2 linked regions of the Homo sapiens genome follow. The protein of the gene in region 1 interacts with the protein of each later gene in a pairwise test. Each region holds a gene or a part of one and is shown on either strand. Other genes may lie near its edges.

Region 1 (11,062 bases):
ACTTACATGAATATGGATAACGTGATGTTTTTGCACAGACACAAAGCTACAGCTGGACCACTGTTACATCTATCATTCATATGTATTTATGTGAATTTACAACATATGTTTAAAATTCCAGAAATAAACAATTCGTAAGTCTTAAGATTGCAACGCAGTTCTTAGTACCATGATGAAATCTTGTGCTATCCTGCCTGGGACATGAATCATTCCCTTTTCCAGAGTATCCACACTGTATATGCTACCATGCCCATTAGTTATTTAGTAGCCTTCTCACTGATCAACGTAGTGTATACAGGGCTCAGTGCTATCAGCAGTTTCAGGCATCCACTGGGGGCCTTACAATATATGCCCCTCAGATAATGGGGACTACTTCATTGCTGTAAATAGCTCATGATAATATTCTATCACTCATCAGTTCAAGTATGTAGAAAATGTTGAAAATCTTTGTATAATTAGAAAGCATTTTTTTTTTTTTGAGACAGATTCTTGCTCTGTCGCCCAGGCTGGTGAGCAGTGGCGTCATTCCTGCTCACTGCAACCTCCACCTCCCAGGTTCAAGTGATTCTCCCACCTCAGCCTCCCAAGAGTTTAGGATTCCTGAGAAGTGGGCCGGGTGCAATGGCTCACGCCTGTAATCCCACCACTTTGGGAGGCCAAGGCGGATGGATCATTTGCAGCCAAGAGTTTGAGACCAGCCTGACCGATATAGTGGAACCCTGACTCTACTGAAAATTCAAAAAAATTGGCCAGGCGTGGTGGTGCATGACTGCAGTCCCAGCTACTCGGGAGGCTGAAGCAGGAGAATCACTTGAACTTGGGAGATGGAGGCTGCAGTGAGCTGAGATCGCGCCATTGCACTCCAGCCTGGGTGACAGAGCGAGACTCTGTATCAAAAAAAAAAAAAAAAAATGACAGTGTAGACTAGGGTTTCTCAACCTCAGCACTACTGACATATTGACATTGGAGCTGCACAACTGTTGTGGGGGGCTATCCTACGCACTACAGGCTATTGAGCAGCATCCCTGGCCTCTACCCACTAGATACCAGTAACACTCCCCACAACAGGTTCTAACACCCAAAAAACGTCTCCAGTCATTGCTAAATGCTCCAGGGGCAGGAAGAGGCAATATTACCATAGGTTAAGAACCACTGAGTAGAGTCAGCCTTGGTGTTTATCCTTACCATTCAAAGAGTTCTGAATACAAAGTAACCAACCAGTCACAGAAACACTTTGCTGAGTAGATTCATGTATGACTCAGGGTAAAGTTATGACCTGAGTTTTCCAGTCTCCTTATAAAATATCATATTCTCCAAAGGGCAAGAGCAACACACCCAAAACAGAGGCATACCATTTTCATGCCTTGTTCTTGCTGGCAGTCTTTAAGGTTTCTAACTGACAAAGCCAGAGAAAACATCATCACAGGCAAGAGTAAGTATACTAAGACCTTAGCCAACTCTAGAACTGCTGGGTGTGGTTCCTTCTGGTGGTGGAGGGGTGGGTGCTTTTATATACCGTTTTGTCTTAAGGCAGTGATTGTGCCAGTAGATACACTGCAATACGCTTAAGGCTGTTTCAGTGAAAATACTATTTAAATCTAATTAACCAGAATACTGGGCAAATTTTATATTTGTCTGTTGTAGAAAATCTTTTCGCCATAGCACAGAAGGCTGAACAAAACCATATTTTTTGTTGTTGACTAAGGATTGTGTAATGCTTCATAGGTTTACAAAAATTATCTATGACTAAATGGTACTGAAGATTCAGAAAATCCAAGGAGAGGGCTGAATCTGAAAATGATGCCAGGCTATATCACAAGTGGAGGAAAAAAACCTTTTTAATGGAATGAGCTCAGTAACACTTTTGTATCTCTTTCCTAAGAATAAGAATGCCACCAAAGGTTTGAATTAGCTGTGTTCCTTTTTTTTTTTTTTTTTTTTTTTTGAGACAAGGTCTCACTCTGTTGCCTAGGCTGGAGTGCAGTGGCAAGAACAAGGCTCACTGCAGAAAAAAGAAAAAAAAAAAGGCTCACTGCAGCCAACTTCCTGGGCTCACTCCATCCTCTCACCTCAGCCTCCTGAGTAGCCAGAACTACAGGCCTGCAACACCACGTTGGCTAACTTTTTTTTAATTTTTTTTTGGGTGGGGGGGGGCGTCTCACCATGTTGGCCAGGCTGGTCTTGAACTCCTGACCTCAGGTGATCCACCTGCCTCAGCCTCCCAAAATGCTGGGATTACAGGAGTAAACCACAGCTCCCGGCCAAGTAAGGATTTCCTAATTAGCGCCTACTATACCAGGAAAGCCTGTCTTCTAATCTGTTAACATACTTCAGCTGTGAAATATATCTAAGGTGTTCTGACAATCGAAATACCACGCAACTGGGCCAGGCGCCGTGGCTCACACCTGCAATCCCAGCACTTTGGGAGGCCGAGCTAGGAGGATCACCTGAGGTCAGGAGTTCAAGATCAGCCTGGCAAACATGGTGAAACCCCGTCTCTACTAAAAATACAAAAATTACCCAGGCGCGGTGGAGGGCGCCTGTAATCCCAGCTACCTGGGAGGCTGCGGCAGGAGAATCGCTTGAACCTGGGAGGCGGAGGTTGCAGTGAGCAGAGATCGCGCCATTGCACTCCACCCTGGGCGAGAGAGCAAGACTCCTTCTCACCAGAAGAAAAAAAAAGAAAAGAAAAAGAAAATTAAGCTAGTACACAACACCACATCTATCCCGTTACTTCTATTTCATGAATTCTACTACAATGAGGTAGTAAACTGTAGCTAATACAATAATGGGCCGGGCACGATGGCTCACGCCTGTAATCCCAGTACTTGGGAGGCCGAGGAGAGGAGGGTGGTTCACCTGAGGTCAGGAGTTCGAGACCAGCCTGGCCAACGTGGTGAAACCCCGTTTCTACTAAAAATACAAAAAATTAGCTGGGCCTGGTGGCGGATGTCTATAATCCCAGCTACTCGGGAGGCTGACGCAGGAGAATCATTTGAACCCAGGAGGCGGAGGGTGCAGTGAGCCGAGACTGCGCCACTGTACTCCAGTTTAGGTAGCAAAAACGAAACTCCGTCTCAAAAAAAAATAGCCGCGCATGGTGGAGAGCGCCTGTAATCCCAGCTACCCGGGAGGATGAGGCAGAAGAATTGCTTGAACCCAGGAAGCGGAGGTTGCAATCAGCCGAGATCGCGCCATTGCACTCCAGCCTGGGTGACCAGAGCAAAACTCCGTCTCAAAAAATAATAATAAAACAATGTGCTGGACTACTGCAATACTGAGATCCTTCTCAGCCAAGTGTTTACAGGTGTTAGAGCGGCAACAGGAATTTCTGGAGTACAAGCTAATCTCTGTGGGAATGGAAAAAAAAAAGCACTAATTTGAATTTCAGTACCTATGTTGCAATGCTAAATTCTTGACAGGGATTAGTACTCCGTAGGTTATGCTTCTTAAATCTCCAAAAGTAAGCCAATATGTGAAATCGTACATTTTTGGTCCGTTATTCTAAGACTGACAAAACGTTCCATTGCTTCGTATTTGAATTTGAGAACTGAGACTCATTTAAAAATTCTTCACTGTTCTTTTCCTTTTTGCTCTTCGATTTCGCAAGTGAAACGGTCATTTCAACAGCACACACATTACACTAGAATAAAGCCAAGTAAAATGACAGACTAAATCAGATCCGTGAATACACGGTGACTCCTTATTTGGTTTTTAATACTTTCACTATGTTTCATGTCTTCGGGAAAGCAAAAGAACAACGTACTGTGCCAAAAGCACTAACTTACGAAAAACCAATTTAGACCAATTCTTTACAGCGTTAAGTATGGGTTGAAAACCAACTTTCCTAATACTTGTGGTCAGTGCCTCAAGGTCGTTAGGATAAAAATAAAGCTTCCAAGACACTTCGCAGCCTTCCAGCACTTCCAGAAAGGCCAAATAAACCAGCATTCACCTTCCCGCTCCATCCAGGCCCCGATTCTCCGACCAGAGAGGGCGCTGAGTGCCCGGGCACGGAGGGGCAGCGCCCTGGGGCGCCCGGCTCTGCCCAGGGCGGGGCTCGGCGGGGCCGAAGCTCCGGACGCCGCCCACGGGGACCACCGGCCCTTGGGCCGCCCAGGGGCAGCTGCAGCCCAGGGGAGGAGCTGGAGGAGCCCCCGGCGGCACCAGGGCCCGAGCCCTGACGGCGGCCGCCCCCGGCCGAAAAGTAAGGAAGGTGCCGCCCTCGCTGGACCAGCTGGGCCCGAAGAGGGGCCCCCCCACCACAAATTCGGAAACCGAGTGACCCCGGCGAGGGACGCGCGGTCCCAGCCCCGGGACGAGGAAGGGCGGCGGCGCGGGCGGGGGTTCTTTTCAGAACTACAGCAGGGAAGGCGGCGGGGGTGGCCGCGGGGCGATCCAGGGAAAATCGGCGCCTCACCTGCTCCTCTTGAGGCAGCTGCTGCCACTCGCTGAGGGGACAACATGGAGCCTCCGCCTTCAAAGCAGAAGCAGCAGGGGTGCAGAGGAGAGGGACGGGTGCGGGCGGGAACGAACCGGGCCCTGGAAGCGGGAAACGGGCGGAGCCTGGGCTCTAGAAAAAACTAGCCAGAAGGTGGGGCACGCGGAGCCGCGACGGAGCGAGCGCAGCGCGGTCTGCGTGGCCCAACGGACAGCCCGAGGCGTGGCGAGCGCAGGACGAGGCTAGGCGAGGCGGGGCGGGAAAGCGCACGCGGCAGAATCCCGCCACCGCCTGCCGCGTGTGCGCGAAGCGAGCCGCCGGGTACCTGTTGGCGGGGCGCTGAGTGCTACCGTCCTTTGGGAATTGTAGTCCCGCGCTCACTGGGTCCCGGCCAGCGGTCCTCATACTGCGCACTCATCTGGGGCGGGGCTTGGCGTGGTTCTCCGACGACTGAACTACAACTCCCAGCAGGCTGTGCGGGAAGGGGCGGGCTGGCTCGGGTCCTCCTGCGAGCTGCGGCCGGCGCCTAACGTGCAGACCAGGCCCCAGGCCGAGGCTTTATCCTGGAACCACCAGTGTGAGAGACAGCTTTGGTGTTTAACTAGGCCTGGGACCACAGGTGGGCAGAAGAGAGGCCTCAACCCTGGATGGCATGAACGTCACTGGGTCTTTAATGATTTTGACTTCATAAGGGCAGGTGGCCGTGACTTCATTACCACCTTTATTATCATCTCCCTATATTCCTGTCCCTGGCCATGGCTGATGCGCACCATCACCGCTCTGATAGCTAATGTAAGAAGTCCAGGCCGGGCGCCGTGCCTCACGCCTGTAATCCCAGCACTTTGGGAGGCCGAGGCGGGTGGATCACCTGAGGTCGTGGGCGTTCGAGACCAGCCTGACCAACATGGAGAATCCCCGTCTCTACTAAAAATACGAAATTAGCCAGGCGTAGTGGCGCACGCTTGTAATCCCAGCTAGTCCAGAGGCTGAACAGGAGAATCGCTTGAACCCAGGAGGCGGAGGTTGCAGTGAGCCGAGATCGCACCATTGCACACCAGCGTAGGCAACAGGAGCAAAACTCCATCAAAAAAAAAAAAAAAAAACTTGCACGCACATCCCAGCATTCTCTGCTCCTTTTCCCTGCATTACTTTTCTCCAAAAGACTTCATACCACTTGGCCAGGCGCGGTGGCTCACGCCTGTAATCCCAGCACTTTGGGAGGCTGAGGTGGTTGGATCACCTGAGGTCGGGAGTTCAAGACCAGCCAGGCTAACATGGTGAAACCCCATCTCTTCTAAAAATACAAAAAATTAACCAGGCGTGGTGGCAGGCGCCTGTAATCCCAGCTACTCGGGAGGCTGAGGCAGGAGAGGTTGCATTGAGTGGAGATGGCACCACTGCACTCCAGCCTGGGAGAAAGAGCAAGACTCCATCTCAAAAAAAAAAAAAAAAAAAAAGACTTCCTGCTACTATCTGACTTATGTTTTACCTTTCATTGTGTTTGTCTCTTCCCACTGAATGTAAGTTCCAAACAGATAGGAATTTTTGTCTGTTTTGTTTACTTGTATATCCCCAGTCCCTAAATACTGCTGGCAGATAATAGAGACTCAAATATCTATTGAATTAATGGATGAAGAAGATATATGTTACATCTAACACTGCTCACTCACTTTCTGGTTCCTTTAATATTAAATACCTAACTTTTACTATTGAACAAAATACCCTAGTTTATTTTAAGGGCTCCCCAGAGATTCACTGAAATCCAACTTCTCAGGAAGTGACCAGCAAATACTGATATATGTCTCAATATTACATCATCAAGGTATCAAGGTCAATGTTAGCACATCAGCATTGTAGCCCTTGTAGAAGCTTTTGGCATTTGGAACAAAACAGTACAAATTATAGGTGGACTTAAGGATTAGTCACAACTTAGAAAGCAACCCCTGTAAATGAGAAACATGTTTTGTGTTATTTCCTTCTCAAATATCCAGGGTCATCAAAACACTGGACATTGAAAGTGCCAAATATTGACAATACTGGTTACAGCCTGCCTTCAGCTATCTCACTCTGAATTGAGTTATGTGCTATGATCAGAGGTTGAGCTTCCCTTGAGGTTTTCCAGAAGTAGGTGACATGTAGACATATTTGAGTGGACAGACTACTGGCTTTGGGGTCAGACTTACCTGGCTCTGATGTTCACTAGCTATGCAACCTTGGGCGAGCTACTTAACCTCTCTGAATCCATTTCATCATCTGCAAAATGATTTAAAGACCCACACGGTTGTTCTAGGCTAAGTGAGCTGTGTGTTTGGAAATGATGACTGCGTGGTTAGTGATCAAAATTAGTAATCAGCATATTCATTCTGGAAAAGCAAAATAAAGTCATAAATATTCAAGATACTCAAGTGGTTTATGAAACACAAAAATAGCAAAATTGTTTTCTGCAATGGCATCCACCATGACTCAGGTTCCAAAGCTTTCCAAAAATAGGTCATTTGTTATATGCCAGGTACCGTGATAGGCCATAATGCTGCATAAGACACATTCCTATCCTCCAGAGACTCGCAGTCCTGTGGGATAGACAGCTGAGGAAATATCATTCACTGTGACTGTACTGGGACACAGTTCAGCTTTCTGCCCTCTATGTGCAGGATCATTATTTAAGCAACTTGGAAGGGACAAGTTGGAATACTACATCCCTGGGCATCATTTAAATTTCCATACCTTATTTTGCATGTGTGTAAAATGGGGTAATGATTTGGCATCTTCATTTGTAAAAAGAAAATAGCCAACCCCACTTGATAGGGTCTTATAAAGTTGAATATTAGGTCCTCAACATGGTAACATACTGAAAGCTTAAGACCTTGTCAGCTACTTCATTATTGGTATTTCAGCCAACAGCACAGCGGTCTAACTGGGAGGATCTCTTGAGCCCAGGAGTTCAAGACCAGTCTGGGGGCTGGGGGCAGTGGCTCACACCTGTAATCCCTACACTTTGGGAGGCCGAGGCAGGTGGATCACCTGAGGTCAGGAGTTGGAGACCAGCCTGGCCAACATGGTGAAATCCCGTCTGTACTAAAAATACAAAAACTTAGCCAAGAGTGGTGGCAGGCACCTGTAATCCCAGCTACTCCAGAGGCTGAGGCAGGAGAATCTCTTGAACCCGGGAGGCAGTGGTTGCAGCGAGCTGAGATCCTGCCATTGCATCCAGCCTGGGCAATAAGAGCAAAATTCTGTCACAAACAAACAAACAAACAAAACGGTCTGGGCAACATAGGGAGATCCCATGTCTACCAAAAATAAACAAATAAATTAGCCAGGTATGGTGGGGTACCTGTGGTCCCAGCTACTTGGGAGGCTGAGGTGGGAGGATTGCTTGAGCCTAGGAGGTAGAGGATGCAGTGAGCCATAATTGTAGCACTGCATTACAGCCTGAGCAACAGAGCAAACCCTACCTCCAAAAAAAGAAAGAAAGAAAGAAAGAAAGTGGGGGCGGGGGACAGCGCACAGTGGCTCATGCCTGTAATCCCAGCACTTTGGGAGTCTGAAGCATATGGATCACTTAAGGTCACAAGTTCAAGACCAGCCTGGCCAACACAGTGAAACACTGTCTCTACTAAAAATACAAAAATTAGCCAGGCATGGTGGTGTATGCTTGTAATCCCAGCAACCTGGGAGGCCGAGGCAGGAGTATGGCTTGAACCCAGGAGGCAGAGGTTGCAGTGAGCCAAGATCATGCCACCACTGCATTCCAGCCTGGGTGACAGAGCGACTCCACTAAAAAAAAAAAAAAAAAGGCAGTGGGGATGAGGATACAGATTTGCTATATTCACCTTTGCTTATGTTTGCCACAGGAATATCCTAATAGTGGCCAGGCTCGGTGGCTCACGCCTGTAATCCCAGCATTTTGGGAGGCCGAGGCAGGCAGATCACGAGGTCAGGAGATCGAGACCATCCTGGCTAACACGGTGAAACCCCGTCTCTACTAAAAATACAAAAAATTAGCTGGGCGTGGTGGCGGGTGCCTGTAGTCCCAGCTACTTGGGAGGCTGAGGCAGGAGAATGGCGTGAACCCAGGAGGCAGAGCTTGCAGTGAGCTGAGATCGCAGCATTGCACTCCAGCCTGGGCGACACAGCAAGACTCCATTTCAAAAAAAAAAAAAAGAGAAAATCCTAATAGTAGCTACCTATATGTGTGTAGAGGAGTGGAGGGAGTTAGTGATAAAACTTTACAATATATATATTCCTGAATATTTGTGTACGTATATATGAATGATCTGTGACTACATATCAAATTTTTTTTTGAGATAGAGTTTCACTCTGTCGCCCAGGCTGGAGTGCAGTGGCGCAATCTTGGCTCACTGCAACTTTTGCTTCCCAGATTGAAGCGAGTCTCCTGCCTCAGCCTTCTGAGTAGCTGGGACAACAGGCATGTGCCACCAGGCTCGGCTAATTTTTTTGTATTTTTAGTAGAGACAGGGTTTCACGATGTTAGGCAGGCTGTTCTCCAACTCCTGACCTCAGGCAGTCTGGCTACCTCGGCCTCCCAAAGTGCTGGGATTACAGGTGTGAGCCACTGCGCCCGCCCTTCAAATGTCTTAATTTAAAATATATAATTTTTAAAAATTTAAAAATAAAATAAAATATATAATTTTTTCTAAAAGTCAAGAAAATATAGGGTAATTAGATGGCTTAGAAGTTAAACTGGGAAATTATCTGTATAGGCCGAGCACAGTGGCTCAAGCCTGTAATCCCAGCACTTTGGGAGGCTGAGGTGGGCCAATCACCAGAGGTCAGGAGTTCAAGAACAGCCTGGCCAACATGGTGAAACCCCATCTCTAGTAAAAATATAAAAATTAGCTGGGCTTGGTAGCGTGCACCTGTAATCCTAGCCAGTGGGGAGGCTGATGCAGGAGAATTGCTTGAACTAAGGAGGCGGAGGTTGCAGTGAGCTGAGATCATGCCATTGCCCTCCAGTGTGGGCGACAAGAGCAAAACTCCGTCTCGAAAATAAAGAAATTATCTGTATAAGATACCAGTCCTGGCCAGGAGTGGTGGCTCATGCCTGTAATCTCAGCACTTTGGGAGGCCGAGGCGGGTGGATCACCTGAGGTCAGGAGTTCGAGACCAGCCTGACCAACATGGAGAAACCCTGTCTCTACTAAAAATACAAAATTAGCCGGGTGTGGTGGCACATGCCTGTAGTCCCAGCTACTCCAGAGGCTGAGGCAGGAGAATCGCTTGAATCCGGGAGGCAGAGGTTGCGGTGAGCCAAGATCGCACCATTGCACTCCAGCCTGGACAACAAGAGCAAAACTCCGTCTCAAAAAAAAAAAATACCAGTCCTTACTACGTACTCACACATGCACACAAAAATACCAGTCCTATAAAGACAGGGCCAAAGAATAAGAGACCTAGCACAGCGCCTCAGGTGTTCAAGGGAACTTCAGAGAAATGGCCATACTCCAGTGTGCTCTTTATTTTTCTTTCTTTTTTTTTTTTTGAGATGGAGTCTCGCTCTGTTGCCCAGGCTGGAGCGCAGTGGCGCGATCTCGGCTCACTGCAGGCTCCACCTCCCGGGTTCACACCATTCTGCTGCCTCAGCCTCCTGAGTAGCTGGGACTACAGGTACCCGCCAGTAAGCCCGGCTAATTTTTTGTATTTTTAGTAGAGACGGGGTTTCACTGTGTTAGCCAGGATGGTCTCGATCTCCTGACCTCGTGATCCACCCACCTCGGCCTCCCAAAGTGCTGGGATTACAGGCGTGAGCCACCGCGCCTGGAGTTATTTTATTTTTCAAGATGAGGTCTCGCTATATTGTCCAGGCTGGTCTTGAACTCTTGGGCCCAAGCCATCCTCCTGCCTTGGCCTCTCAAAGTGTAGGGATTACAGAGGTGAGCCACCATGACAGCCAGGGAGCACTTTAAAAATTCCATCTTGGGCCGGGCGCGGTGGCTCACGCCTGTAATCCCAGGACTTTGGGAGGCTGAGGCAGGCAGATCACGAGGTCAGGAGTACAAGACCAGCCTAGCCAACATGGTGAAACCTCGTCTCTACTAAAAATATAAAAATTAGCCAGGCATGGTGGCATGGGCCTGTAGTCCCAGCTACTCGGGAAGCTGAGGCAGAAGAATCACTTGAACCCAGGAGGTGGAGGGTGCAGTCAGCTGAGATCATGCCACTGCACTCCAGCCTGGGTGACAGAGTGAGACTCCATCTCAAAAAAAAAAAAAATCCCATCTTGGACAAAAAAAAGGAAAAAAAAAATCCCAGCTGAGCCATTTCCCACCAAAAACTTCCACTCAATCCCCATTATTCTTAAGACAAAGCCTCAGTTCTTTGGTTCAATACTACTGCTTCTCCAAAAACTGGCCCCAACATATCTTCCTCATTTTAGATGTTATCCCTATATCTTCCCTCCTGTCCTAATTCAAGCCTTCAGCTCCAGCCAATTTGGTCTAACCAACACCCAAGACACCTTATACACGCTCACGTCTGAGCCTTTAGCCACCACATATGGCTGTACAGTCTGAGTGTTACACCAAGGCAGCTTGTGGAGACAAGGGGCAAGAGGGGATCAAATCTAGGTGAGGTTCTGCTAGCCAAATCAGCATGGAACTG
Region 2 (11,262 bases), on another chromosome or scaffold:
GGGCACGGCTGCCTGATTCCGAGCTGATGCGGAGGAAGTATCATAGCGTGAGGCAGGAGGACCTGCAGAGAGGTCGCCTGTCTCGTCCCGAGGCCGTGGCTGAGGTGAAGAGCTTGTGAGTATGGAAGAGAGGCCAGGGAGGTGGGGGAACAGTAACAGCAGCCATGACACTAAGTGCTAGCTTTGTGTGCTCGACATCATATTAGGCAAACCACAGCTGTTACTTCATTTAACCTTTTTAACAGTTCCGGGAGGTAGTTAATATTAACATCTTCCATTTATGGGTAAAGAAAAAGGCTGACTTACTTAGCTAGAAAGTGGCCAAGCTGGGATGAGAATCTCGATCTAGCTGTTTGTTTTCACAGCTTCTGTTCTTTCTTTCTTTTTTTTTTTGAGACAGAGTTTCGCTCTCGTTGTCCAGGCTGGAGTGCAGTGACGCAATCTCGGCTCACTGCAACCTCCGCCTTCCATTGGTTTCAAGCGATTCTCCTGCCTCAGCCTCCCAAGTAGCTGGGACTACAGGCACACACCACCACGCCCAGCTAATTTTTTGTATTTTTAGTAGAGACCGGGTTTCACCATGTTTGTCACGATGGTCTCGATCTCTTGACCTTGTGATCCGCCCGCCTCGGCCTCCCAAAATGCTGGAATTACAGGCGTGAGCCACCACGCCTGGCCCTGTTCTTTCTGCTGGAGAGACAGTTTAGGGTCTTGACTAAGCATGTGCATGTATAAGCCACTGCCTGGGTTCAAATCCCAGCTCTTCCATTTACTTGCTGTGTAACATTGGGCAAGTTGCTTAGCCTCTGTGTGTCTCAAGTTTCTCATCTGTTAAATGGAATGATAACAGGGCTTACTCAGAAGGTGGTTGTGAAGATTGAACAGGTGTCTTGTACTGGGGAAGTGTTGAGTAGATATTAGTTATCATCACTACACTGTGGAGAAACTTCGTAAACATGACAGAGCTGGTACTTCTGAGGAAGCATTTTAAGACTTGAAAAATATTCATCTAACAACTTCAGTAGCAGTGGACGTTTACACCTCCCTTCCCTGGAGTGGGGTCTCTGCATTCTCTTGAAATAGAATAGGGGCAAGAAAAGTTATAAACAAACAGATGGCTGGGCCTCACCCCAGAAATTCCGAGTCAGTTATCTGGAGTGGGGCCTGGATATGTAGTTTTTTTAAAAAAGACTTTCTTACTTTGAAATAGTTTTATATATATATACACATATATATATATATATATATATATTTTTTTTTTTTTTTGAGACAGAGTCTTGTTATGTAACCCAGGCTGAAATGCAGTGGCGTGATCTCGGCTCACTGCAACCTCTGCCTCCTGTGTTCAGGCGATTCTCGTGCCTCAGCCTCCAGAGTAGCTGGGATTACAGGCATGTGCCACCATGTCCAGCTAATTTTTGTATTTTTAGTAGAGATGAGGTTTCATCATGTTGGCCAGGCTGGTCTCGAACTTCAGCCTCAGGTGATCTGCCTGCCTTGGCCTCCCAAAGTGCTGGGATTGCAGGCATGAGCCACCGCACCCAGCCTGAAATAGTTTTAAACTTAAAGAAGTACAGGAATAATACCAAGAATGCCTTTTACCCAGATAGAACAATTATTAACATTTTGCCATGTTGGCTTCGTCTATCTCTCTACATATACATATTCTTTTCTTTTTCCTAAACCATTTGAAAGTAAGTTGCAAACGTGACTTAATACTTCAGCGTGTATTTCCTAAGAACAAGGACATTCTCTTAAATATCCACAGAGCTGTAATCAAAATTAGGAAACTTAACGTTGATAACTAATGTATAATTCGTAATCGGATTTTACCAGTTGTATTAATAAAGTTCTTTTTCTTCTTTTATTAATTTTTTTCCTTTTTTCTTTTTTTTTTTTTACTTTTTGAGACGGAGTTTTGCTCTGTCATCCAGGCTGGAATGCAGTGGCATGATCATGGCTCACTGCAGCCTCAACCTCCTGGACTCAAGTGATCCTTCTGCCTCAGCCTCCTGAGTAGCTGGGACCACAGGCACATGCACCATACCCTGCTAATTAAAACAATTTTTTTGTAGAGATAGGGTCTCATTGTCTTGCCCAGGCTGGCCTTGAATTCCTGGGCTCTAGCAATCCTCCTGCTTCAGCCTCCCAAAGTGCTGGGACTACAGGTGTGAGCCAGTGTGGGTGTCCTAATAAAGTTCTTTGTATCAGTTTCCCTGATCTGGGATCCAATTCAGGATTATACATCATGTTTAATTTTTTTATGTCTCTTTAGTCTTCTTTAATCTGGAGCAGTTCCTCAGTCCTTGTTTCTTGTGACCTTGACATTTTTGAATAGTACAAGCTTATTATTTTGTAGAATCTCCCTAATTTTTGGATTGTTTGGTTCCTTGTGATCAGATTTAGAGTGTGACAAGTGATGTGTCATGTTCAGTACATCCGTATCAGGAGGCACCTGATGTCAGGAAATACTGACTTTGATCACTTGGTTAAGGCATCCATACTGTAAATTATCATTTTACTCTTCATTAGTAGTAATTTGAGGGGAGATACTTTGAGACTATGTAAATATCTTGTTCCTCATCAAACATTTATCCACTGCTTTAAAAATCCATTGATGGGTCTTGCCTTAATCAGTTTATTACTATGATGGTTGCAAAGATGATCTTCTAATTATTCTATCGACATTTTTTTAGCTGGCTTTCTACTATAAGGAAGCTCTTTCTTACTATTATCAGTATGAACTCATAGATTTATATTTTATTTGATGAGTTAGAATCTATTACTATCATTATTTATTTTGATCTCAAATTGTCCTAGATTTGGCCAGTAGGAGCTCTTTTGAGTTGGCTCTTGTTTGCATTGGTCCCTGTCATTTTTGAATGCTTCCTTTATGGTACAACAGGATGGTCAAATTCATCTTATACTTCCCTGCCCCAGCCCTGGAATCAGCTTATCTCCATGTTTCCTGGTTTCCCTTCAGAAACCCAGATCTGGGTTCAGATTGTGCTCATGGCTTCTGTGGTTCATCCATGTTTAAAAAAACAACAACCAGAACTCCCCAAGTGAGTCTGTTTCACATCCCAGGTAGAGAATATCATGCCATTTATTCTGACAGCTGCTGTGTACCCGTGAGGTGGGTCCTCTGATCCTCATTTTATAGATAAAGAAGCCACAGCCCTGGAGAATTTCAGTAGCCTGCCTGACATCAACAGTTAGAAGACCAAAGCAGGAACATTTATACTGTTTCCACCTCAGCAAGAGGCTCCAAAAAGGGGACTGAAATGTAGCTGGGGTGGCTTAGCCAGGCCTGTTTCTCCCATGCTCTCTCGACTCCTCTCTCTTTAAGCACATGGTGAGTGTGTTTAAAGAGATTGACCATCCCTAGCCAACTGTACCTGCAAGGCCCCAGGCTCCACTTCCCAGGGCTTCTGTCCTGCCCACTCACCAAAGCCCCTGTGTCTGTAGCTTGATCCAGCTGGAGGCCTTCCTGAGCCGCCTGTGCTGCACATGTGAAGCCGCCTACCGCGTGCTGCACTGGGAGAACCCCGTCGTGTCCTCACAGTGAGTGACCCCTCCTCTCCCGCCACCACCCTATAGGAATTTGCAGCTTGAGCCCGAGCAAAGCCAGCTGCCTTGAGAGGACCTCTGCCCCTCTTACCTCAGGGGAAGAGCTCGCCTCCTGGGCTCTTGTGTGTATATCTGCACATATGCTTGCGGGCTCTAATGTACTGCTTTTGTTTAGATGCTTGCTTTTATGTGTGGTAAAAATAATAATAGAAAAATAACTCACCATATAATCCACCATGCAGCCGAATCTCTTGTTTGTTTTGCCTGCTAGAATTTGTCACATGCATCTACTTTACGGATGTATAGTTTCATAGTGTATGTTCAATTTTTCTTTTGTTTTCCACTTATCATTATATTAAAGATGATTTTCTTTGTTGCTATATAGCTTTTGGAATTATTTATAATACCAGATTAATATAGATGGCAAATATAATTTGTGAAACCATTCTGTTACAGATTTAGTCAATTTCCCTTTTCATTACTAACCCCATGGTAAACATTTTTATGGATTTAGCTTTAATGTTTTAGAAAATTTTTCTTGGAGTAAATTCAAGGATGAAACTACCATATCAAACAGAATGGGTGTTTTTGAGGCTCTTTAATATGAATAATAGTGATAACTAATGTTTGTTGTGTTCACCTGGTGCCAGGCACTGCTCAACACTCCCTCTGTATTATCTCACTCTTATAGTAACTCTATTAGGTAGGCGCTACTTCAGTCCCCATCTTACACGGGAAGGGAGCTGTGCCCAGAGAACCAAGAGACTTCTCAGAATGAGAAGTGGCAGAGCTGGATTCAAATCCCAGTCTGTCTTACTCTAGACTTCAGAGTCTAGACCTTAAGGAGTGATGATGGTTGAACCAGTTTATGTGCCACCAGCTGACACCACTTTGGCCTCACCAGCATCAGGTGTTTGCACCGGTGACTTGGGATAGTTCTCAGTCTTCATCGCCATTTTCCGCTGGTTTGATGAGCGGCTCTTGTCAGTTTATTAATGTGCCCAGAGCTGTGTCTCACCTGGACCCTGCTGTGGGTGTGCTCCAAACCCGTCTCCTTCTGCTGTTACGAATTTCTGATCTTGTGGTTCTTCCCTGTCATCCAGGTTCTATGGGGCTCTTCTGGGCACAGTCTGCATGCTGTATTTGCTGCCACTCTGCTGGGTTCTCACCCTTTTAAACAGCACGCTCTTTCTGGGGAATGTGGAGTTCTTCCGAGGTAAGCCCTGAAGGGCCTGAAAGATGGGGCCCAAGCTGGCTCTGAGGGCTAGGCTAGGCTCCCCAGTTCTTCTGTCTCTACAGCTAATCATCAGTTTGCTGTGCTTCCACAAGTGCAACACCACACTGGGGTCCTCTCTCATGGGCTCTGCATCTCTGAGATGTTAGATGAAGCTGGAATCTCACCAGGGGAGGCTGCTACCATTGGGCTCCCATCTCCCTTCGCTCCCTTCCCAAGGCAGATGAATCACTGCTTATATGATATGATGGCTTCTGGAAGATGAGGGAAGGATGTTTTTCCCAAAGCTGCCACCCATCCCCTGGGGTGCAGCCACCTGGAGTTGCTACCACATCTCTGTGTGATCCCAGAATACCCCTCTGTTGTCTGGCTTCTAAAGCGCTGAGGCAGTCTGGAGAGGCACTGAGTCGCAGAGGCCCGAGTCTGTACATATGTTTGGGTGATTGCTGTATTTGTTTTCCTCCCTGTGGTAGAGTTATTTATTACAGAAGCCATGATTTATTGAGCATTTACTACATTTAATCTCTGTAGCTGTCTGGGGCAGGTGGTGGTATCTAAGTTTTGTTTAAGAGGCTTAAGTTAGGTGACTCGCTCAGAGTTAGGAGGGTGACTCTTTCCTGTAGTGAAGGGAAGAGAGGCCAGCCAGCTGCAGAAGTGGGTACCCCTAAAGTGCCACTCACGGTGTCTCATTTTTGCCTCCTACCTTGTTCTCCATTCCCTGGGTAGTTGTGTCTGAGTACAGGGCATCTCTGCAGCAGAGGATGAACCCAAAGCAGGAAGAGCATGCCTTTGAGAGTCCTCCACCACCAGATGTTGGGGGGAAGGATGGTCTGATGGACAGCACGCCTGCCCTCACACCCACGGAGGTAAGTGCCACTGTCAGGGCAGAGCCTGCTGTGGCCGCTTGTGGGCCCCCCTGTTATCAGCTTGTTTTTGGCTCCTGGGCTGGCCTCTGTTGTAGTTCCTGCTATTTCCCAGGCCTTAACTCCCCTGAAGTGTTCAATAATAATAATTGTAATAAAAACAGCTACTCCATGCTTCACTGAGTGCTTACCCTGTGTCAGATGCTGCTCCAAGTGCTTTATAGATAGATATTCACATCATGGAGTGCAGGTTCTTTCTTTCCTTTTCTTTTTTTTTTTTCCTTTTTTTTTGAGATAAGGCCTCCCTCTGTCACCCAGGCTAGAGGGCAGTGGGGCAATCACAGCTCACTACAACCTCCATCTCCTGGGCTCAGGCAGTCCTCCCACCTCAGCCTCTTGGGTAGCTGGGACTGCAGGCAGGTGCCACCACGCCCAGCTAATTTTTTTGTATTTTTAGTAAAGATGAGGTTTTGCCATGTTGCCCAGGCTGGTCTCAAACTCCTGGGCTCAAGTGATGTGCCTGCCTCGGCCTCCCAAAGTGCTGGGATTACAGGCGTGAGCCACTGCACCAGGCTGGTTATTTCTGAGAAAGAGATCATTCTCATTTGTGGAAGAGAAGGCTGAGGCACAGAGTGGCTGGTAAGTGGCAGGGCTGGGTCTAAGACCCCAGCCCTGTGGTTCTAGAGCTCGTGCCTTCAACCACTGTGCGATGTGGCCACTGTAGGGCCAGCTGTGCTCGTGTTTCCATCTCCCCCGCCCTGCCAGGCTAGAGGTTGCTCCTTCCTGTGAGTTCCTTCTTTCTTGCCATTGTGCCATTTCGTGGTGTTTTGGGTAGCCTGGATGCTGGCTTGGGGAGGTGGTCCTCTGCCTTAGGGAGCAGCGCTGCCATCCTTCTCCTTCTGTCATAGAGTCTCTCTTCCCAGGACCTCACACCGGGCAGCGTGGAGGAGGCTGAGGAGGCTGAGCCAGATGAAGAGTTTAAAGATGCGATTGAGGTGGGTGGCCCTTCCCCAGCATCCTCTACTCAGCAGGCCAGAAATTGGGTGGTCCTGGAGCTGTTTTTTGTTTTTGTTTTTTAATGTCCAAGTGAGAAGCTAAAACTTGCTGTGAGCTAGAACTCACTGGTTGAAAGAGTGCCACTGAACCCCTCCCCACTCCTGTTTCTGGTTGAGCCAGCTGTCCTGGGTGCCCAGGGCAAGAGTGGCTCTGGAAGTCTCCGGGTAATGCCCTGCTAGGGGAGCTGGACGATTTCTGGCCTTTGCTGGAGACCGTGGGCTTGGTGCCTTTGATATAGGAAAGGCAGCTTTTGAGGAGGCTACTGCCCTGGGTCTCCGCTCTTCTGCAGAGTGAGTTCCGTAAGATGTCCCTTTGCGGGGCTGGGAGGGGAGGTTGGAGAAAGTAGTTGCATGGCCAAGTGCTAGGTCAGAGGAAGTTAAACAGCTTTCTTGATTTTAGGATGGTAATTCAAATTGGTAGTTTGCAGAAGTGTTTTATTTGGCATGCAAAGTTTCAAAATAATTTTTTGAGCCAATGTTTAAATATGGAGAGATTTTTATTAGAACTGCAGGTTTCCAGTTTCTCTGGTAGTCCTGAGTCTGCAGCAGTAGGTGTAGCTAAGGAGCTGCTGTCCCCTTTACGCAGGTCACATGCTGTGGCTACAGGTGGTCCTCAACACCCCCTGCTGTATTTTGTCACTGAGGTCAAGTGGGAGTTGCCATTTGTCACATTTGCGTTTTTGTTTTTCTTAGAGTAGGATATCATTTCTCTTTATTTATTTCTCTTTGTAAAGTGGGAAATTGAGATATAAGAAAAACACCTCGTGGATTTCCACCAGGCCTGTGATTTACCCCAACTCACCTCAATCATACATCAGCCCAGGCCATGCAGGCATTTGACTTTCTGATGGCTAAAAGATTGCTCCAAAACTTTGATATATGATTGTAGACCGTGAATCTTGGTGGAGGGAATATGTAGAGCAGGGGTTTTCAAGCATTTTTGTTCATGACCCATAGTAAGGAACACATTTTGCATCTTGACCCAGGTCACACTTAGGTCTATAAAATATGTAAAACTTAAGTGAAACAAAAGTTTCCGGAAAATACGTTGTAAGGGATATTTTCTTTCCTTTTCTGTTCTATTCAAATAAAGACCTACTAAATTATTTTCACCCAGTTTGAGAAACTGTAGTACCTAGCTTTCTCCAAGGCTGTTTGATGCTGGGATCCTCTTGTGGGGGGCGTCTGTCAATGTCACCATTTGGGAAGTGCGCAGAGCTCAGAGCAGCGCTTCCATGCTTCCTTCTGCTTGGGGGCCCCTCCAGGTAGCTTCTTTCTTCTTGCTATCTTTTTCTTTCTGTTTTCTCTCCTCTTCCCCGCACCTTGGGAGGCAGGAGACCCACTTGGTGGTGCTGGTAAGTGGAAGCCTTGGTGGGTGGGCAGGGGCTGGGCTGGGGAGGGTGGCTGAACCGGCTGCTGCCACACCTCGTGGGGGCTGCCGCGCAGGATGCCTCTGCACACGGGTCCTGCAGCCTTGCAAGAGGTGGGCAGGACTGGAAGGAGCTGTTCCCACAGGAGGATGATGAGGGCGCCCCGTGCCCAGCAGAGGATGAGCTGGCCCTGCAGGACAACGGGTTCCTGAGCAAGAATGAGGTGCTGCGCAGCAAGGTGTCTCGGCTCACGGAGCGGCTCCGCAAGCGCTACCCCACCAACAACTTCGGTGCGGCCAGGGGACAGGGCTGGGCTGGTGGGGGAGTGGGGGTGGACTTCTGGGACTCTAGTGGGGAACACCCAGCCACAGGGGCAGAGTCTCAGAACTGTGGGTACTGACTTGTGACAAGAGCAGGGAGTGAAGGTGTGTCCGCGGGACCCCGGGGAGCTAGCAGATGCCCGGCAGGACTGCTGAGGGAGTGGGTGTGGGTTCCTTCTTGTCCCTCCATCCTGATTGGACATTCAGTTGTGGGAAGACAAGGAACTCAGTTTGGGAAATGCCATCCCAGGACTGTAGAGAACCATAATCCTGACAGAACTTCAGAAGGCAGTGTAGCATGATGGTGAGGAACAGAGTAGAGTCTCACTGCCTGCTGCAAATCCCAGCTCAGCCAGGTGTCCTTGAGCAAATTATTTCACACCCCGTGCCTCAGTTTCCCCTTCTGTAAAAGGGGGATCATCATTCTTACCTCATAGGGTTGTTACAGGTCTCATGTCAAATGAGACAGTAGTACTTACGAAGGGCTAGCACAGTGCTGGTTGGTTCATAGTAAGTAGTGGGTGCGGTTAATGTGGGAGGCCCTGACCCACGCTGTGGGTTCCTAGGATCCTGTCTTGGTCTTTCTTATCCAGCTGGAAGCAAGTTGAAGCAAACATTGTTTCTCTGGACGTGATAGAGCCCTGAGTTCACCTCTCCCCAGCCAGTCCTTATTTTACTGAGGGTCGGGGGAGAGCGGTCAAGGAAGGCAGCTTTGGAGAAGGGTGGACTTGACAGCACAGCTTAGAGACCTGGCTCAGATCAGCAGCGCTGAGAGCTGAGCCACATACAATTATGGTGGAAACCTAGAGTAGCTAGGTTGACCTGGGAGCTGCTGTGCTCCTGAGGAAGGGCCCTCCTGCCTGCTGTCAGATGGGAGCAGGGTAAGGGGGCAGTACTGTGTGTTCTGGTGTTGAGTGAGTTCTAGGGTCTGTGCCCTGGAAGAAGACAATGGAGTTTATCTTGAGGAATTTGACTCAGGGCCCCCAGGGTCCTGCCTTCCTACCCCTGCAGCAGCCAGGGCAGTTGTTTTCTCAGGATTAGATGTCCTGGACAGGCTCTTTCTTTCTGCTGTGTGAATGTCCCCCAGTTATTCAAGATCCCTTTTTTTTTTTTTTTTTGAGACAAGGTCTCACTGTGTCTCCCAGGCTGGAGTGCAGTGGCATGATCACAGCTCACTGCATCCTCGACTTCCTGGGCTCAAGTGATCCTCACAGCTCAGCCTCCCGAGTAGCTGGGACTACAGGCATGTAGCACCATGCCTGGCTAATTTTTGAATTTTTTTTGTAGAGACAGGGTCTTACTTTGTTCCTCAGGCTGGTCTTGAACTCTTGGGTTTAAGTGATTCTTGTACCTTGGTCTTCCAAAGTGTTAGGATTACAAGTGTGAGCCACCACGCCCGGCCCCTTTGTTTTATTTATGCTGCCTGCTGACTTCTGCAGGGCATTCTGTATGTTCAGTGATCTGTTTACCCTCCATACTTGCACATGTGTGATCTCATTTCATCCTTACCGTAGGTGTGACAGGAGCAGGCAGTTCTTAAGGGTTCAGAGCAGCCAGATTCCAGCAGTGCCCGGTAACACTACACACAAGAAGTATTACTCTGGTCCAGCAAATAATTTGTCTATTTCTACAACTTCTAAGTAAAGGTACTTAGCTGTTCCCATTTTACAGATGAATAACCTGAGGTAAAAAGAGTGCTTTGCCCAGAGACTTTGGCCTGGAAATGGTGGAGCTGTGACTCAAATTCAGGTTGTCTGATTCGGCTCTTGTCTTCTTTCTACCTCTTCATCCTCCCTCTCTGTTTTCCCTTTGCCCTTGCGTGTGAAGTCCCTTGTTTTATGCCTGTCCCGCTTTTGTATTTGATTTTTGGTTTGGATAATCTCTACCAGCATGGGCAGAGGCCTTTTCAGCCTCCCTCAAGGATGGCAAGGGCAGAAAGTGCTTCTTTTCCTAAACTCCTCTTAGTTCCTCATCCTTCAAGACCACTTGCTACTTTCCCTTTTCTGAGATGTTCCCAAGCTCTTTGCCATGAGGGCAGGTGTAGCAGCTCTGCTCCTGCGGCCTCTGCTCCTGAACCTGGGTCCTGAGAGCAGGGCGAGGGGAGCTGCTTTGGGGGCTTTCTCCATTTCAGCGACTATAACGAAATACACTAAGCTGGGGGGCTTTTAAATAATGGAAATCTCTCATCACAGTTCTGGAGGCTGGAAGTCCAAGATCAGGGTGTCAGCAGGATCAGGTTCTGGTGAGGTCCATTTCCGTCGTCATAGACAGCACCTTCTCACTGTGTCCTCATGAGAAGGTGGGAGGGGCACGGCAGTTCTCTGGGGCCTCTTTTATAAGGGCACTAATCCCATTCACGAGGGCTCCACCCTCATGACCCGGTCACCTCCCAGGGGCCCTGCTTTGGGTGTTAGGATTCCACATGTGAATGTTAGGGGACTGTGGTGGGGGCTATTCTATTTACCCCTGCCAGTGGATGAGGGGGTGCATGGGGAGAATGAGGGCAGACTGCAAAGGAGCTTCTCTGTGGCCTCCGTATGGGAGAGGTCTTGGTGGGGAGGGCCCCCCTTTGTCCTGGAGGCTCCATGACTGTTGCCCTGGCAGGCCCCACTGGGCCTTAGTGCCCCTGCTGTCATGGCCTCGGTGGCATCGTCACGTGGTGAGTGAGGATGGGTGAGTCCAGGCTGTTGCTGAGAAGGGGCAGAAAGAGTTGGTAGGTGTTGGAAGGGAACGTCACCTGGCTGAGCTGCTCTCAGCTCCCAGAGCCCTCCCTGGCTCCGGTCTGTGAGTGGGTTCACAGCTGTCTCCCCAGCCCACTTGGCTGCCCTGGGGTGCTTGGCCCTGACATTC

Evidence for each region.
Region 2: the proteins of ATL3 (region 1) and ZFYVE27 interact in binary tests that used the Homo sapiens proteins (3 or more experiments, as listed by UniProt).

The regions. Positions count from the first base shown.
Region 1 is NC_000011.10:63,666,870-63,677,931, forward strand, and holds the start of ATL3 (atlastin-3), read right to left. Parts: upstream 4,467-11,062; coding exon 4,421-4,466; intron 1-4,420. UniProt on the Homo sapiens protein: Atlastin-3 (ATL3) is a membrane-anchored GTPase that mediates the GTP-dependent fusion of endoplasmic reticulum (ER) membranes, maintaining the continuous ER network. It facilitates the formation of three-way junctions where ER tubules intersect.
Region 2 is NC_000010.11:97,744,801-97,756,062, forward strand, and holds part of ZFYVE27 (protrudin), read left to right. Parts: coding exon 1-115; intron 116-3,468; coding exon 3,469-3,564; intron 3,565-4,673; coding exon 4,674-4,786; intron 4,787-5,530; coding exon 5,531-5,670; intron 5,671-6,575; coding exon of another isoform or gene 6,576-6,590; coding exon 6,591-6,662; intron 6,663-8,056; coding exon 8,057-8,077; intron 8,078-8,237; coding exon 8,238-8,382; intron 8,383-9,926; coding exon of another isoform or gene 9,927-9,952; exon of another isoform or gene 9,953-11,262. UniProt on the Homo sapiens protein: Key regulator of RAB11-dependent vesicular trafficking during neurite extension through polarized membrane transport. Promotes axonal elongation and contributes to the establishment of neuronal cell polarity.